2 separate regions of the Homo sapiens genome follow, and region 1 is reported to be linked to region 2. The links are microRNA targets in miRTarBase. Many come from high-throughput screens and were not tested one by one. Region 2 holds a microRNA gene; the other region holds the end of a gene's coding sequence.
What was found. Region 2 holds the annotated microRNA hsa-miR-4526 (GCUGACAGCAGGGCUGGCCGCU, at 2,229-2,250, opposite strand). A microRNA usually pairs through its seed, bases 2 to 8, with sites in the 3' UTR of a target mRNA and lowers its output. Matches are read on the target gene's strand: a 7mer-m8 pairs with bases 2 to 8, a 7mer-A1 pairs with bases 2 to 7 and ends in A, and an 8mer does both.

Region 1: miRTarBase lists TRIM41 as a target of hsa-miR-4526. Seed matches in the 3' UTR shown: 7mer-m8 at 622-628.

The regions. Positions count from the first base shown.
Region 1 is chr5:181,234,181-181,237,256 of GRCh38, forward strand. TRIM41 (tripartite motif containing 41) reads left to right here. Exons shown (of 6, transcript NM_033549.5): 6 at 1-1,628. The coding sequence ends at 595. It overlaps RACK1 (receptor for activated C kinase 1), which reads right to left. Exons shown (of 8, transcript NM_006098.5): 8 at 2,717-2,862. The coding sequence ends at 2,797. Among named protein-coding and RNA genes, the nearest start is that of SNORD96A, 6.2 kb to the right of the region's middle. RefSeq lists an enhancer at 1,947-2,026.
Region 2 is chr18:13,610,298-13,613,416 of GRCh38, reverse strand. MIR4526 (microRNA 4526) reads right to left here and starts at 2,303; the gene lies at 2,217-2,303. The region is part of intron 4 of LDLRAD4 (low density lipoprotein receptor class A domain containing 4); the gene reads right to left. RefSeq lists enhancers at 1-143, 564-793.

The DNA of each region.
Region 1 (3,076 bases), not on the chromosome of region 2:
GACGCTGGACCCTGACACGGCTCACCCGGCCCTGATGCTGTCCCCTGACCGCCGGGGGGTCCGCCTGGCAGAGCGGCGGCAGGAGGTTGCTGACCATCCCAAGCGCTTCTCGGCCGACTGCTGCGTACTGGGGGCCCAGGGCTTCCGCTCCGGCCGGCACTACTGGGAGGTAGAGGTGGGCGGGCGGCGGGGCTGGGCGGTGGGTGCTGCCCGTGAATCAACCCATCATAAGGAAAAGGTGGGCCCTGGGGGTTCCTCCGTGGGCAGCGGGGATGCCAGCTCCTCGCGCCATCACCATCGCCGCCGCCGGCTCCACCTGCCCCAGCAGCCCCTGCTCCAGCGGGAAGTGTGGTGCGTGGGCACCAACGGCAAACGCTATCAGGCCCAGAGCTCCACAGAACAGACGCTGCTGAGCCCCAGTGAGAAACCAAGGCGCTTTGGTGTGTACCTGGACTATGAAGCTGGGCGCCTGGGCTTCTACAACGCAGAGACTCTAGCCCACGTGCACACCTTCTCGGCTGCCTTCCTGGGCGAGCGTGTCTTTCCTTTCTTCCGGGTGCTCTCCAAGGGCACCCGCATCAAGCTCTGCCCTTGATTATCCTGCCACCCGCAGGGGCCCCTCTGTCAGCACTTGGGGGGTGGGTGGTGGAGGGTGGCCCGTAAGTTTGAGGGCTCAAAGGCTCTTCCCACTGCTTGTTACTGTGTTGCTTCCCACTCCCCCTTGACCCCAGGCCCCTGCTTCTCCCTCTAGGAGCCTAAAGAACCCTCCTGGCCTCCAGCTCAGCCTTCTCTCACCTACTATGTCTGTCCAACAGGTCTGCATGGGTCCCTGATAATGAGAACAGCTGCCTGGTCTTCTCTCCCAGTCTGCCTAGCCCAGCCCTGGGACTGGAATTTGAGTAGGGGATGAGGGGAAATTGTAATTTCATTCCTTAACTTCCTTTTCCCCACCCCTGCTCTTCAACCTCTTTATCAGTTCTGAGGCTGGAGGGTTTGGGCAAGGCAACATCCCCATTCCAATTCCATTTTCTGATGCAGATTTTAGCTGAGGGATTTGGAAGCCATTTGGGGAGGCAGGCTGGGCCAAAGGGTAGAGCTGGGTAATAAATGTCTATTCTCCTGGGGAGGAGGGATTCTAAACTTTCCTTCCGTCCTCAATTTCTACCTCCATAGACCGGCCAGAATTTAGCTTCACTTGAGAGAGATCTGGAATGGTCGCCATGATTGAAACCACGCACCATTACATCATCATTACATTAATTACATCAACATAAATTATTTCTTCCCCCTTCCCTTTTCCAGCACTCAACCAAGGAGCAAAGCTCATCCCACCCCACACCCCTCCCAGGTCTGCTCACTGCCAGGCTCCTCTCCCCTTTGTTCAGTGGAGCTGGCTTTTCTCCCAGCCCCTTTCCATGCCTTTCACTCCATTTGGCAAGCTCTGAGGGGGAGCCTGGGGACGGGTTTGGGTCCCCAGGAGGAGAGCCTTGGGTATAATCTATTTTTCTAGGAGCCTCTTGCCTTGTCACTTGCAGCTTTCGCCCTCTGCTTTGATGGCTGAGGTGAACTCATGTTCTTTGGGAAAAGGGAAGGCGTGCTGTGGAAATAAAATGTTTATTTGCTTCTCTTGTGAGGTCTGTTCCTTCAGGTGAGGGTGTAACTCAGGATTTCTTCCTTTGCCGCCCCTGCAGTGAGAAGCCACACAACTGAACTGGTTAGTTGCAGTTAAAGGCATGCTTTGCACCTGTTACCAGGCAGGCTCCTATTTCAACAGGGATGTGGACCCTGCTCCCCATTTTAATATCTTAACCTAACTTACTAACTGTTCAGTCTACTTAGAGATGTTTGCCACACGTAGTTGAAACTGAAGCCAGAAATGCCTCATCACCATTATAAATTGAGGGGAGTAGGAAGTGGAGGGTGCATGTGGGCCTTCAATATGCTGTAGTTGCTTAGCACAGAAAATTGCAAGGGTAGTGGGGTCTCAGCCGCATGTTGAACCATTCCATCCCTGTACTGAGGTTTCTATTGGAAACTGTAATTGTAGTTTAATGGCTCACTTCTGGCCTTTCACAAGGCATCTATCCTCATGAATAAACTGTGTTTGTGTGTAGGGGGATTGAGGGCCAGGTTATAGTAGCAGTTGAAATGTTTAGTAGGGCCAACTTTATGGTTCTATTTATGAATGCTTCCAGACCAACCACCCCAAAACTTTTGACCTGAGGAATAAATTAGTTTTGAATTAAGTTCTTCTGGTGAGAACTGCCTTGCTTAAAGAATTAAAAACCCTTGACTTTCCTCAAAGACCATGTTGACAGAGACTGCTAACATGAAGCTTAAGTTTTCTGAATTATGTTCAAATCTTTAGAGGAATGAGGATTCATCTTCCACTCTTACGTGTCAGGGGTTGGACCTGCGGAGTCTGCTTTTTCTAAAAATTGACTGCAACCACTTTGAAATCAGTTCTTTCCCTCAAGAAGGTTCCCCAGGTTGAAGGTAGGCCCTGATGATCTGCACGTGGTATGTAGGACGCTGATGGGGTTTAAGTTCAGGGAAACTGCTATGTGACTTCTCACAAACATCCCACCTGATGCTACCCCAATCCTGAGAACTTAGACGGACAGCTCCCCTTCAAAGCCTTGTTTACTTAGTCCATACCTTGCATCCAGTTCGCTAGTGCAAACTTAATGTGTAAGCAATGTAGATAGAATGGAGCTTTTTTGCATATAAGAAAAAAAAACCTAAAAGTCAGAAAAGCCAGTTTTTTTTTTATTTGTAAAGCTCTGCCATAAACTTCTAGCGTGTGCCAATGGTCACCTGCCACACTCGCACCAGGTTGTCCGTGTAGCCAGCAAACAGAGTCTGCAGGGAAGAAATGACAGTGACAGGTCAGGCTGGCATAAATTCTGCAGTCTCACTAGATTCAGCCCAAGTGGCTTTTTTTGAGATCCGTCCACCTTGCTCCATTGTCTAGGCTGGAGTGCAGGGGTGCGATCCTGGCTCACTACAGCCTTAAGCCCCTGCAGTTCAAGAGATCCTCCCACCTCAGCCTCCAGTAGGCATGTGCCACAACGCC
Region 2 (3,119 bases):
CACCTCCACATTATTAATTTAGGAAAGTGCATCAGAAAAAAAACACAGCTGCACATGGAATGGAACCTTCATTTCCACAGGGGAGAGTGGTGGCTTCTGAGGCTCTCATCCCACAGCCAGTCTGTCTGTCTCTCACTTTCTTTGGCTCTCTATCTCTCAGAGTCACAGTTCTCCTTCCTAATAGCTCCTGTCACTACATGGATGACCTAAGAAAGTGTTCAATGAACCAGCCACATCCTGAGAAATACCTTTTCTTTAAAATGCAGTTTTCAGCTCATGAGGGTGAAGAAAAAGGAATTATTAACAAGTAGCAGAATTTCCAGGGGAGGTCTCAGCCTTATATACAGACATTTGAAAAAAACAAAACTCCAAAGCAACAAACTGTGTACTCATGCATAACACCTCCAACAGGAACAAACTAATTCCAGGCTTGAAAGAAGATGAAAAAGCCTGACATGCATCTTCCTAAAGGGAGTCCCACCCGGAAATGTTCTGAGTTGACAGACCCCTCTTAGGTAGAAAGAAACTTCTTGAGAAAGAGCTTCTCCTCTTCTCAGCTCTGTCCTCAGACCAAACTCCAAGAAGAACCACAGCAAACCCGAAAGAGCATGCATCATCCATAGCAGTTCTTGGGAAATGTACCTTTTTTTAAGAACAGGTCTTTGAACTGAGCCTCCTTCAGTGTGCTGTTGTTCAGGTGGTCACTGGACATAATCAGGTCCTCTGCAAGTGGGAGTCCAACTGTGACGCAGCCCCCCCACGTTCAAAGCATCCCTTCAGCTTCCGGCAATCTCCTCTCCAGGCAGCTCAGAGCTGCAGTTATAGCTGGCATGGGGTGTGGGAGAGTGTGTGAGCGTGGAGGGGGGGGGGGTGTGTTTCTGTCTGCCTCGTTCACTCTCTCTCTACTGTATCAGCAGGGCCCACCCCAGGTGCTAGACTCAAATGCTGTGGCTCCGACCGCAGACTGTGGCTACCAATTATCAACTGCCATCAACAGAAACCAGGAGCTCTGCGGCAGGAAGCCGGCCGTGTCACCGAGCAGAGAATAAGTCCGGGGTCTCCGATCCTGAGACCAGCTGTACACCCAGGGCACTACTGTTTACAGCAACGTCTATCAGTGAGCAGTCTGCACTTCTCAGGTTTGGCCTCACACCTGGACGTGTCACACACACAGGCAAGCAGAACGCAGCTAGACGGCTCATCTTGTCACACTGCGTTCAGTAATCTTTTCAACAGGCAAATATCAAACCAGTCCAGACAGAAAGGAGGAAATCTGCAAGTCTCACACAATACTCCTTCCCTTGATCTCTGCTGGAAGCTTTCAGTGTGGAAGGACCGGAGAGGGCGCTTACCAAGGCAGGACACGCGACAGGCGGGACGCTCACGTTAGGCTCGCGTGCTTCTCCCCTGCAGATCCGCTCCCAGAGCGTGCTCGCCCGGCTGGGAGCACCCACAGCGTCCCTCAGGCTGCGAGCCAGGCTGCGGGCTGTCCTCTTCTGGTGCTCCCTCTCCACATCCTCTAACTGATGGGAGCAGCTCCCAGCGGCTCTTGCCACCGAGCTCTGTACTGGCAAGGCGTGAGGTCCTAACCGCAGCAGGAAACACTGCGCGCTCCTTTCCCCCCGGCTCGCTCTTCCCTCTTGGCTCTCCCATTCATTCCCTCTCCCTCTGCCTCACATCATTATTCCCCATGTATGGTAGCACAAAAACACCACAGAGACTCCTTCAAAGTCAGGATGCTCAATGTTCCTAGGCAGTTTTAGTTTATAAGGATCAGAAATTAGAGAACAGAATCCCAGGCAATTCAAACATGAAAGCAGAGACATGTCTCAGGAGGGCGCTTTCTCCTGGTTCATTTTGTTCAAGCACAGTCTCTTTTCCCCGAGGTCTAAACAGTTTGTTTCATCTGAGTGTAAAACATCTCCCGTGCATTCGGATGCCCCCAGGCTGTGTGAAGAAAATTCAGGGCAGGCTGCGAGTCTGTCGCAGTTTTCAGAGAAAATCACGGGGTGGCCGTGGTGGAAAGGGCAGCCTGCCATGGTAACGCTGCAAATAACCCCCACCACAAGCACTGCCGGGAGCCCAGAATAGCCTTTGTTTTTCCTTATTTAGGGTAAATAGGAATGACATGTGGGCCATAACAATAGTTTTGGCTGTAGGAGGAGTTGTCAAAGCAAAACTAAACTCTGTTGGTTACTACCAGCGTTAGAAGCCAGGACAGTGACGTTAGCGGCCAGCCCTGCTGTCAGCCCAGCACGTCACCTGGGGCATGACAGCAGGGACTGGGCCCTGATGTCACCGCAGGGTCCTCCAGGTGGCTAGAAGACATCACTTTCTCATGTTCTCATTTTTGGGGGCAGGGGCAGAAAAGCAACAGAAGAACCACCCAGAAGAGTTTCCAGAAGCTTCACGTGGATAAAAGGAAACCAGAGAATTTCAGCAAGGAAAGTGACCATTTATTAATATACAGCCGCGAGGGAAATCCGGATGGTATGATTCTTCCTGAGCAATTTCCGAATTAAAAATGGAACTCCCCTCCCTGTGCCAGACTTTCCCTGACTTCTCAGAGTCACCCTGCTGGGTGAATGAAGAGGGAGTCACCCTCAGAAAGAGGCAGCTTCAGAAAGAATTAGAAGCTGCAGCCACTTCAAGCCGCCCCTCCCTGGCTACCAGCGCCCCTTGTCCCTGGAGCCCCGAGGCTCCTTGCCACCTGGGCCAGCACTTCCTGGTCAGGCTCAGTCACATGATAGGCTTGCCCTCAAGCCAGGGCCTTAGTGAGGAGCGCTGTAGGCCACTGTACCTGTCTGTTTCTTAAAATTAGGGCTTTGTGGGGCAGGCACGGTGGCTCAAGCCTGTAATCCTAGCACTTTCGGAGGCCGAGGTGGGCGGATCACCTGAGGTCAGGAGTTCAAGACCAGCCTGGTCAACATGGCGAAACCCGTCTCTACTAAAAATACAAAAATTAGCCAGGTGTGGTGGCACACGCCTGTGATCCCAGCTACTCAGGAGGCTGAGGCAGGAGAATTGCTTGCAACTGGGAGGTAGAAGTTGCCATGAGCCAAGATAGGGCCACTTCACTCCAGCCTGGGCGACAGAGTGAGACTCCGTCTCAAAAAAAA